Regions from separate parts of the Homo sapiens genome. Here regions 1, 2 and 3 are each linked to region 4. Evidence: fine-mapped expression QTL. A gene starts in region 4. Each other region holds a variant in brackets. All regions are shown on one strand. Distances are between the middles of the regions.

Region 1 (2,748 bases), 52 kb before region 4:
ATTCAATTAAACCTCTTTCTTTTTTAAATTGCCCAGTCTCTGGTATGTCTTTATCAGCAGCATGAAAATGGACTAATACATCATCCTATCTGACTAATACAGGAGAGGGAAAAACTCATAGCACCATATGTCATCTGGAGCCTCTCCAATCTTTTTTTTAATAATGCCCAATTTACAGTTTTATAAAAATTACTTGACCTGTAAAGAAGCAAGAATGTGTAAGTGATGAACAAGAGAAAAATCAGACTACAGAGGATCCAGATATTTGAATTAGCACACAAGAACATTAAAATAAACATGATTAGTATGTTCAAGGAGACAGAATAAAAGATAGATTCAAGCAGAGAGAATTACACAAGAGATCTGAAATCTTTAAGAAGGAATCAGATAGATATTCCAGAACTGAAATACATATTATCATATTAAAAACTCAGTAAGTAGACTTAACAGCAGAACACAGGATTTTTAACCTGGAATATGAATCTATAGCAAACACCACAAGGGAAGCACAGTGAGGATAAAGAACGGGAAAAAATCTGCCAAAAGACTAGTGTGTGGAATTGGAGTTACAGAAGGATAGGAGAGTGCTAATGGAGCAGAAAAAAAAATTTGAAGATGTAATGTCCAGGAATTTTCCAAAACTGATGAAAGACATTCTCCCTATTAAATCAAAAAGTTTAGCAAACCACAAGCTGGATAAATTTGAAGAAAAACACACCTCAAACACTGAAATCAAACTGATGAAAAACAATATCAAAGAGAAAATGTTAAAAATAGCCTGAGAATAAAAGAGGCATTTACCTGCAAATGAGCTACAATATGACTTATGGCTGACTTCTAGATAGAAATAATGGAATGTGGAAGGCAATGGAATAACATTTCTCTGAGCACTTTAAAGATGCCTACCAACCTAGAATTCTTTAGTTCTCAAATTTTTCCCTTCAAAATCAAGGTGAATTAAAGACTTTTGGGGCAAAAAAAAAAAAAATGGAATTGTATTGCAAGCAGGTTTATGCCTTTTACTGAAGAGAATATTTCAGGCAGAGGGAAAATGATGCCAGAGAGGCATAGAAACACAAGAAACATAAATAAAAATAGAAAGTTAAATATGTATAAAGTAAAAAAGTAAATGAAGTAAAATTGTAAGGACATAAGGAGTTAAAAATATTTATAGAACTAAAATGCATGACAGCAGTAACAGAAAAAGTGAGAGGCTATAAACATAGTTAAAACAGTTTCTGCAGCATTGGAGATGTAGTTAAAGCAATACTTTGTATTAGACTCTAATAAGTCAAGTATCTATATTGTATAACCCTTAGGGTAATCACTAAAAGAATATAAAAGAAAGTAAAACTAACAAATTAATAGAAGGAAATAGGTTTGACTAATCCAAAATAAGAAAGGAGGGGGAACAACATTAAAAAGATGGCCAAATAGAACAACAAGGTGATACAGTAAGTATATACCTAATTATACCACAGTAAAATGCAAAATGTAAACAGATTAAATATTTCAAGTAATATTATCAGACTATTTTTAAAAATCAGCAAACTGGATGCTACATACAATAGACACACTTTAAATAAAAGAACAAAGAATGGAAATAAAAGAAAAATATACCTT[G/T]ATAGTACAGTCTCTCCTAAAAACACATGAAAGTATTTTTTAAAACAAGCTTGTCCAACCCACAGCCTGTGGGCCATATGTGGCCCAGAATGGCTTTGAATGCGGCCCAACACAAATTTTTAAACTTTCTTTAAACAACATTATGAAATTTTTTGGCGCTTTTTTTATAGCTCTTCAGCTACTGTTAGTGTTAGTGTATTGTATGTGTGGCCCAAGACAATTCTTCTTCCAATGTGGCCCAGGGAAGCCAAAAGATTGGACACCCCTGTTTAAAACAAGAAACATGACAAGAGGTAAAGAGGCCATTTCATAATGATGAAGGGAGGTATCAAAAAGAAGGACATCACAGTCCTAAATCTGTATGTACTGGACAGCACAGATTCCAAATATACAGAGCAGAGAAAACTAAAAAGAGAAGTAGACAAATCTACAATCATTGTGGGAGTCTTAAAACATCTCTCATATCAGCTTCAAGAAAAAACAACAAGGAGTAAAGCTGTAAAAGATTTGAACAAAATAATTAACAAATTTCATCAACTAACATATATAGAACTCTGAACTCAACAACTGAGTTCATTCTTTTCAAATTCCCAAGGAAAATTACCTAAATTGTTTGCATGCAGAGCATATAGAAAAGTCTAACAAACGTTTTTAACTGCAATTATTTCTAGTATATCCTCCAATCACAATGGAATTAAACTAAGCATTAGTAGCAAAATATAACCAGAAACACCCTAACTGACTGAACATAAAACAGTACACTTCCAAATAACTCATAATCAAAAACAAAAATAGAAATATGAAATGTCAAAACTTGTGGGATGCACTAAACCAGTGCTCAGAGGAAAATTCTAGAAAATAGGAAACAAATATACAAGACAAAATCAACAAATCCAGGCTGGGCACGGTGGCTCACTCCTGTAATCCCAGAATTTTGGGAGGCTGAGGCGGGTGAATCACCTGAGGTCAGGAGATCGAGACCAGCCTGGCCAACATGGCAAAACCCTGTCTCTACCAAACGTACAAAGATTAGCTGGATACAGTGGCATGTGCCTGTAATCTCAGTTACTTGGGAGCCTGAGGCAGGACAATCGCTTGAACCCAGGAGGCGGAGGTTGCAGTGAA
Region 2 (2,748 bases), 81 kb before region 4:
TGATAAATGGATATTGTACAAATCCTGCATTTGCATTGGCTCTGAGGACATAAATCAATTCTCATGATCTTACTTTGGAAAAAAATTTCCCTTTGAAGTCAGACTGAGCGATTTATGTAGCATTCTTTCCTGACTTTATTTTTCTCAGCTTTTTAATGATTGTCTTTTCACTTTCTGCACTTACACAACATTGTAAAGTGTTGCATTTTCATGTAGAGAAAACTGGACCTTGGTCTGAATCTTCCCACAAGGGATAATTTTATAACTTTTTTGCTCAGCCATTGAATAACAATTGCTTTTGGAAAGATTGTCATAATGTATCAGTTAGAAGGCACCTTAGAGACCATCATTTCACATGACCTCTGTTTTTTAGATGGGGAAACTGAGGCCCAAGAGTGACAGTCATGTGCTGCAGGTCACAGGCCAAGTTTGTGACAAGACCGGGGTGTCTGTTCGGGTTTTGGAGAAACAAGGACCCTAGATAGGGTCCATTCATTCATTCATTTATTTATTTATTTGTTCATTCTCCAGACAAATCGTTATCTTGGCCCCTTCTGCTGCAGCCATTGCCACTAAGAAGGCAGGCCCTGCAGGGGAGACTCTGCACGTCTTTTGTTTGTTGAGTATTTGCTAAACGGGCAAAAAATGGAAGAAAAATCAAAACATCACTGTTGGCTGGGCACGGTGGCTCACGCCTGTAATCCCGGCCCTTTGGGAGGCCGAGGCGGGCAGATCACGAGGTGAGGAGATCAAGACCATCCTGGCTAACACGGTGAAACCCCGTCTCTACTAAAAATACAAAAAAAAATTAGCCGAGCGTGGAGGCGGGCCCCTGTAGTCCCAGCTACTCGCGAGGCTGAGGCAGGGGAATGGCGTGAACCCGGGAGGCGGAGCTTGTAGTGAGCGGAGATGGCGCCACTGCGCTCCAGCCTGGGGCGACAGAGCAAGACTCTGTCTCAAAAAAAAAAAAAAATCACCGTCCTTTTTTGGCGTTCTGTCAGTCAAGAGTATTCTGAAGACTATCGAGGGAGGAGTGTTTGGTTTGTGCCTTGTTTTGTTCTGTTTTAGCAGCCCTGGAAATCATGGATACCTCCCTTCCTTGAAGTTATCTTTCCCATGTATAACAGCTGTATTGATTTATGAGATATAATTCACATACCGTACAATTCACCCATTTAAAATATACAATTCAATGGTTTTTAGTGTAGTCACAGAGTTGTGCAACCATCACCGCCCTCGATTTTAGAACATTTTCAGCACCCTAAAGAGAAGCCCCATCCCCCTTAACCGTTAACGTGCTTCCTTCTCCCCACTGCTCTAGTGACCACTAACCAGCTTCCTGTCTCTGTGGGTTTGCCTAGTACGGACATTTCATCGGAATGAAATCAGCTAA[CAT/C]GTGATATCCTTAATGGTTTTGTAGCAGAAAGACATCTACGTGGGAAGGGACGCTGCTGAGTGTTTAGAGAACAGACACATTCATCATTTTATTGTATTTTCTCAACTTTAGAACAGTTTTCAAACATGTGGAAACGTTGGAAGAATTTTATAGCAAGCACCCTTTGCCCCATCACCGAGATTCTCCCAGCACATCTTCTTCTGCTTGCTTTATTTAGTGCACACCTATCCACCTGTTCCAGAGATCACCACTGCGGCAGTGGGTTCTCAAAGGAGAACCTTCCAACCTTCCCGCATTGAGAAAGAAAAATATCAGTTTTACTAAATGAAATATCAACATTGGAGATTTTATAAGCCGAGAATGTTAGTACATCAACATTAGAAGCCCTAAAAAATAAAATTGCATTCAAAGGCCAAAAAAGTCTTAGGCTTGCTAGCTCTCCAGGAAAGGCCTGTGTGTTCAGGACAGGAGGACTAAGGACCAAACAGGTTTGGGAATGACAGATCCCTTGACGGAACTGGCTGACAACTTTGCTCACCAGTCACAGCAGGGCAGCCCAGGGAGTGAACAGGGGCGTTGGCGGGGAGGGCAGCCATTCCCGCCCGCTGCTAATGGGCTCGCTTCTCAAAGGAGCTTTTGGGATTCAAGGGTTTAAGTATCAAGTTTGACTGATGGATTTGGAGGGAAGAATTGAAAACTGCCTGAGGGAAGGCGCTTTGCTTTTTCTTTTGTGAGGCAAAAGCTTTTGAAAACTGTGACTGTACAAAGAGCCACAGCTCCTCTGAGGAGTCTGTTATGCGGCAACACATACTCAGATGTGGACAGCAGTGAGCACGCTGCCTGGAAAGGGGGAACAGCACCGCGGGCAGGCTTCAGAGCCACACACCACGTCTCTGTCTCAGAGTCTATCCTCGACCACAGGGTTTAAGTCTTTGATGTGCACACTGGGCCCTGGAGAGAAGGTGCCTGTTCTCACGGGCTGACCCCACAAGCCTGTGAGCCGTAAGCGGTGTGATTCGCTAACAGTTGAATGGCACTGGCTATGTGTGTATGTGTATGTGTGTGCGTGTGTGTGTGTGTGTGTGTTGTGAAGATACATTTAGTTTGAGTCCCTATGAAACGAGGAGAAAAGGTCTTGACAAACAACAGTTCAATAGCTCCTGCCAATATGTGCAATGCAATTCTTTTTAGTGAGTGAATTAGGCTTGATAAGAACTACATTAAAGCTTCTGTTGGAAGAGGAATTCAAAATGCTCATCTTTGTAATTTACCCACTCAGTCACCAGTGTTTACCAAGTGCCAATGGAAGCCTGGAGAGAAGAGAAAGCAAAGATAAATAAGCGTGTCTCTCG
Region 3 (2,717 bases), 38 kb before region 4:
GAGAAACAGGTTTAATCATAGTGTTAATGGAAAGGGGTCATGATCCAGACCCCAAGAGAGGGTTCTTGGATCTCATGCAAGAAAGAATTCAGGGCTAGTCCACAGAGTAAAGTGAAAGCAAGTTTATTAGGAAAGTAAAGGAATAAAAGAATGGCTACGACATCGAGCAGCCCCAAGGGCTGCTGGTTGCCCATGTTTATAGTTTTTTCTTGATGATATGCTAAACAAAGGGTGAATTATTCATGTCTCCCCTTTTTAGACCATATAGGGTAACTTCCTGATGTTGCCATGGCATTTGTAAACTGTCATGGTGCTGGTTGGAGTGTAGCAATGAGGATGACCAGAGGTCACTCTCATCGCCATCTTGGTCTTGGTGGGTTTTAGCCGTCTTCTTTATTGCAACCTGTTTTATCAGCAAGGTCTTTATAACCTATATCTTGTGCTGACCTCCTATCTCATCCTGTGACTTAGAATGCCTTAACCGTCTGGGAATGCAGCCCAGTAGGTCTCATCCTCATTTTACCCAGCTCCTATTCAAGATGGAGTTGCTCTGGTTCAAACACCTTGACCACAGGGTCACAGAACGAGAAGATGGGAGGGAACCTCAAAGCCATTTCCCCAAGGAAGTTGAGGCTTGGGTTTTTGAGGGCTTTGGAGTGGGCAGAAGTGTGGAGATCAAGAGTACAGGGTGAAGTCATAGGAAGGGGAGAGGAAGCAGCTGTGTTCTCATGCTGATCCTGTTCCCCTGTGGGAGACTTCCAACTGGTGGCTGGAATTCTGGGGAGGTGTGTCTGAAAAACATCTTAAGTGTCTATAGGAACAATGGGGATGCAAATCAATTCTTAAACAGTCTTCTGGCCTTAATGTCAGAGATCCTATCTAGGGGAACGGTGGGGAAGCAAATGTCAGGATCTAGTGCTACTGTAACTGAGGAACTGGTTAGCCACTCACTGCAGCAGAGTCCAATTAACAAGATCCAGGCCTGGTACAAGAAAAGTGAATTTATTTTTGAAGCTAGCTTGGAAAGACACAAAGTGTCCTGCTTTAAGTGTGCTGCTTCATCTTTGGAGCAAAAAGCAGACATGTTTATAAGGTTAAAGGGGAAG[T/A]GAGCAAGGGCAGGAAGTCCCCCTGCTAGCCTGGTGTCTTATCTACCAAACAGCTGAGTTGGCATACAGTTGAGTTGGTGCCTTCCTGGGCAGAAATAAGTTGTAAAAGTGGCCAAGTGGGCGTGTTTTCACCATGTCCTCCTGAGGCCACCCCAGAAGTGGGAGTTCCGTGGAGATGTGCTTTGATCTGCAAATTGACTGTCAATTCTGGAGAAGAGATCACTGGGGCACGTAGATGACCTTGCCTTGTAGGGAATGTGTGGTGAGGGGGAGGTGAGAGGTTATTTTGCATTTCAAAAAGGGCTAGGTAGGAAGCAGGCTGAAAGGGGAAAGGAGAAGAGAAGAGAAAAAAGTAATTAAACCACCTCAGAAAAATCAGGGTACTTGGTTACGGTACATGACCTACTGCAACAAGGAACTGGGCCAGGGTGCAGCCTGATTAACGCTGAATTATAACTGTATTTGTACCCAGAACCTGGCATGCAATTCCCGTCAACCCTGTGGGGATGGTTTCAAAACCTGACCCTGTTTCTCATTGCATCCACACCCACAGCGTCAAAGCAATGCCAGGAGAACCACGCGTGGCTCATGTTTCTTGGAGGAGTCCTGGTTCAGTTCTACAGGCTTCCCACACAAAGCAATATACTGTTGGCCATGTAGGTAAGAAAAGCACAGGAAACTGTTTTTTACCCTTTCTACCAGTGTTTAGTACCAACCACAAGCACCAAAATACTCAAACTTCGAGCTCTGTGGCTCTGGCTCTTATGGACGGGGAAGTGCTTTACAATTGCCAGGCATTCCATTCACTTTATAGAATAGCCAGAAAGCTCCAGGGATGGGGATGCCCTGCCAGGGGGCCACAGCTCTTAAACAGGTGACATGCTTGTGACTGGAAAGAGGTCCCGATCCAGACTCCAAGAGAGAGTTCTTAGATCTCACGCAAGAAAGAATTCAGTGCGAGTCCATTAAGTGAAAGCAAGTATATTAGGAATGTAAAGGAATAAAAGAATGGCTACTCCCCGTAGACAGAGCAGCCCCAAAGGCTGCTGGTTGCCCATTTTTGAGGTTATTTATTGATGATATGCTAAACAAGGGGTGGATTATTCATGCCTCCCCTTTTTAGATCATAGAGAGTAACCTCCTGATGTTGCCATGGCATTTGTAAACTGTCATGGTGCTGGTGGGAGTGCAGTAGTGAGGACCACGAGAGGTCACCCTTGTCACCATGTTGATTTTGGTGGGTTTTGGCCAGCTTCTGTACTGCAACCTGTTTTATCAGAAAGGTCTTTATGTCCTGTATCTTATGCTGACCTCCTATCTCATCCTGTGACTTAGAATGCCTTAACCACCTGGGAAGGCAGCCCAGTAGATCTCTGCCTCATTTTACCCAGCACCTATTCAAGATGGAGTTGCTCTGATTTCAATGCCTCTGACACACTAATGTTAGAGCACCTTGGACATTTTCCTTAATCTGAGTGTCTAGTTTTCTTTTCTAGAAAATGAGAAAAAACTAGAATGTAGACCCCCATGTGCTCAAAGCAACAGCCTGCCTGGTTTGCTTGGACTTTTCCTAGACTGTATGATAACAGGTGCTCGATTCCTCTACGTAAA
Region 4 (2,500 bases):
GTTACGCTATATAGTCTAAAAAGGGGAGGCATGAATCACCCACCCCTGGTTTAGCATATAATCAAGAAATAACTATAAAAATGAGCAACCAGCAGCCCTCAGGGCTCTGTCTATGGAGTAACCATTCTTTTATTCCTTCATTTTCTTAAACTTGCTTTCACTTTACAGACTCGCCCTGAATTCTTTCTTGCATGAGATCCAAGAACCCCCTCTCTTGGGGTCTGGATCAGGACCCTTTCCCGTAACAGCTCTAACACCTTACAGCCTCTCCCTAGCTAAAGTCAAACTGGAGCTGACCCCTCACATAGCACAGTCCTTAAATGAGATGTGTGAAAGTTTCCAGAACATGCCAGGCCCGCAGTCAAGGACTCTCCTATCCCCTTGCCATGAGACCCAATCCTAAAGACCACCTGTGGGGTTGGAACTTGAGGTTCCAAATCAGCAGTGCCCACCTCCTTCAACACCCAAACCCACAGTCTAACCCTGATGCCGGAAGCCTTCCCCACTCAACAGCAGGCATTGCGTGGAGTGAAAGAAGCCAGGCATGATGGACAGCTTCCTGTCTGAATCCCCTCATATGAACCTGACGGGCACAATGAACCTACTGGGCTAAACTCCAGACGCTGGCCACCTTCATAGGGTGGAGATGACAGAACAGGACAGGAGCCATGGGGCTCCCGGGGCGGGTAGGGGTGGGTCATGTTCCTTGGCTTGGGGGCAGTTACAAGGGTACAGTGGGGCTTGTTGAAGGGCAAAAGTTCTGTAAGTTCGTCCCGACAGGCCAAAGAAACCCCAGAGCCGTCTTTCGACTGACTACAGCCTGGAAGAGAGGCCAAGACCACTCCCTGCCTCTATTGCTCCATTTCTGAGTTGGTCTCACTTTCCACCCCACTGACGGCGCGCTGCGTGAGGGGCGGGGCATAGAGGGAGGGGAGGGGCTATGCGAAAGAAGGCGGGGAGAGTGGGGTGGGGCCGCTCCTTGGAACGGAAGCGCGCGGCCTCGAGGCCCTTCCGGTGCGGGAGAAACTACTACTCCCATAATGCCCCGCGGTCCCGCGAGCTGCCAGTCTCGTCGCGAGAAGCAGCGGCCCGGGGCGACTGAGCGGACAAACGGAAGTGTAGGTTACGGTCTGAGACATCACCGCCAAGCTGGGCATCGGGGAGATGGCCGAGACTGACCCCAAGACCGTGCAGGACCTCACCTCGGTGGTAAGGGACGGCTGTGAGGGCCGGAGGCCGCGGCCTTCCCGGGCGGCGCCGGGCCAAGCCCTGCTGGACAGAGGCGCGCCCACCGCGGCCGCGCGTGGCGTCTGCCGAGGCCCCGTTTCTGGAAGCGTCTCTGGCCGAGGCTCCCGGCCACCTTGACCCCCGGGGCGCTCGGTGCGGGCCAGTCTCCCCGCGGGCGCCCCCAAGCCCGACCCCTTCCAGTAGCCCCATTCATCTGTCGCGAACGCCCTCCGGGTCCCTCCCGCCTACCTCTGACACCCTCCCCGCCCTTCAACTCCTCACACACCCCCGGGTGCCCCAGCCCGGCAGAAACAACCTAAAGACCCTGAGCTTTGAGTCGCAGCGGCCTCCCCAGCCCAGCAGTCTAATTGGACAGGTTGGAAAACGGAAGCCCAGAGAAGGAAGATCTTGCTGAAGGCCGCACAGCTGTCCAGAGGCAGAAATGGGGCTGGAACCCCGGGACCAGGGCTTGCGTCCTGATCCCAGGAAGTTGTCTCAGGATCGATGTGGACCGTGTTTGTTTGTTTCGGTTTTTCTTAGGTGCAGACACTCCTGCAGCAGATGCAAGATAAATTTCAGACCATGTCTGACCAGATCATTGGGAGAAATATCCTTTTTATCTGCAGTCGGCCTCCTGTGGGCCTTTGGAGCCTATTTGCCGGGCAGTGGTGGGGATAAATGAGTAGTTTTCAGGCTAGCTTCAGCCATTCACTTGTAGAATTTGAGCTTGGATTGTACTGTGTTTCTGAGAAGGACTGCGCCGAGAGCTAGGGGCAAAGCTGAGTTAGACTCCTGGCTCAAGGAGCATACGTCTACCAATCCTAATAGCTGGTGTGGTGGACCATGCACTGTGAACTAAGCGCTTTTGTGTGTGTCTTTTGATGCTCAGCATGACCTTATGAGTGGGTTGTAGTGTTATCATCTTTAGCAAATGAATAAATTGAGGTTTAGGGGTTCCATCACTAGTAAGGGTCAGGGCTGGAATCCGATGCGGGGTAGCCATGCCCCACAGTCCTGTACTCTTACCCACCAGCGTGTAACAGTGTCGAAAGAAAATTGGAAGACCAGTTTCCCTAAAGTCGTTGTGTTTAAGGCTGTAGTCTGCAGGGACGGGAGGAAAAAGGCTCAATGAGATGTTGGCACGCGTTGTCTTTAACTTCAGCACTTGATGATATGAGTAGTCGCATTGATGATCTGGAAAAGAATATCGCGGACCTCATGACACAGGCTGGGGTGGAAGAACTGGAAAGTGAAAACAAGATACCTGCCACGC

What was found. PIP is the estimated chance that this variant, and not a neighbour inherited with it, causes the effect.
Region 1: its variant is fine-mapped to the expression of HSBP1 in whole blood (INTERVAL, PIP 0.99).
Region 2: its variant is fine-mapped to the expression of HSBP1 in whole blood (INTERVAL, PIP 0.99).
Region 3: its variant is fine-mapped to the expression of HSBP1 in blood mononuclear cells (TOPMed, PIP above 0.99). The same link has a PIP of 0.9 or more in whole blood.

Annotation. Positions count from the first base shown.
Region 1 is chr16:83,754,777-83,757,524 of GRCh38, forward strand. The region is part of intron 11 of CDH13 (cadherin 13); the gene reads left to right. The region is part of intron 1 of CEDORA (CDH13 antisense oligodendrocyte and neuron associated lncRNA); the gene reads right to left. Among named protein-coding and RNA genes, the nearest start is that of CEDORA, 17 kb to the right of the region's middle. The variant G/T (reference allele first, on the strand shown) is at 1,624.
Region 2 is chr16:83,725,881-83,728,628 of GRCh38, forward strand. All of the region lies in intron 10 of CDH13 (cadherin 13), which reads left to right. The region is part of intron 2 of CEDORA (CDH13 antisense oligodendrocyte and neuron associated lncRNA); the gene reads right to left. Among named protein-coding and RNA genes, the nearest start is that of CEDORA, 46 kb to the right of the region's middle. RefSeq lists an enhancer at 2,058-2,558. The variant CAT/C (reference allele first, on the strand shown) is at 1,394.
Region 3 is chr16:83,768,449-83,771,165 of GRCh38, forward strand. The region is part of intron 11 of CDH13 (cadherin 13); the gene reads left to right. All of the region lies in intron 1 of CEDORA (CDH13 antisense oligodendrocyte and neuron associated lncRNA), which reads right to left. Among named protein-coding and RNA genes, the nearest start is that of CEDORA, 3.1 kb to the right of the region's middle. RefSeq lists an enhancer at 1,025-1,164. The variant T/A (reference allele first, on the strand shown) is at 1,107.
Region 4 is chr16:83,806,913-83,809,412 of GRCh38, forward strand. It overlaps HSBP1 (heat shock factor binding protein 1), which reads left to right and starts at 1,066. Exons shown (of 4, transcript NM_001537.4): 1 at 1,066-1,209; 2 at 1,768-1,834; 3 at 2,393-2,500. The coding sequence starts at 1,165. RefSeq lists an enhancer at 860-1,361 and silencers at 1,019-1,195, 1,213-1,502.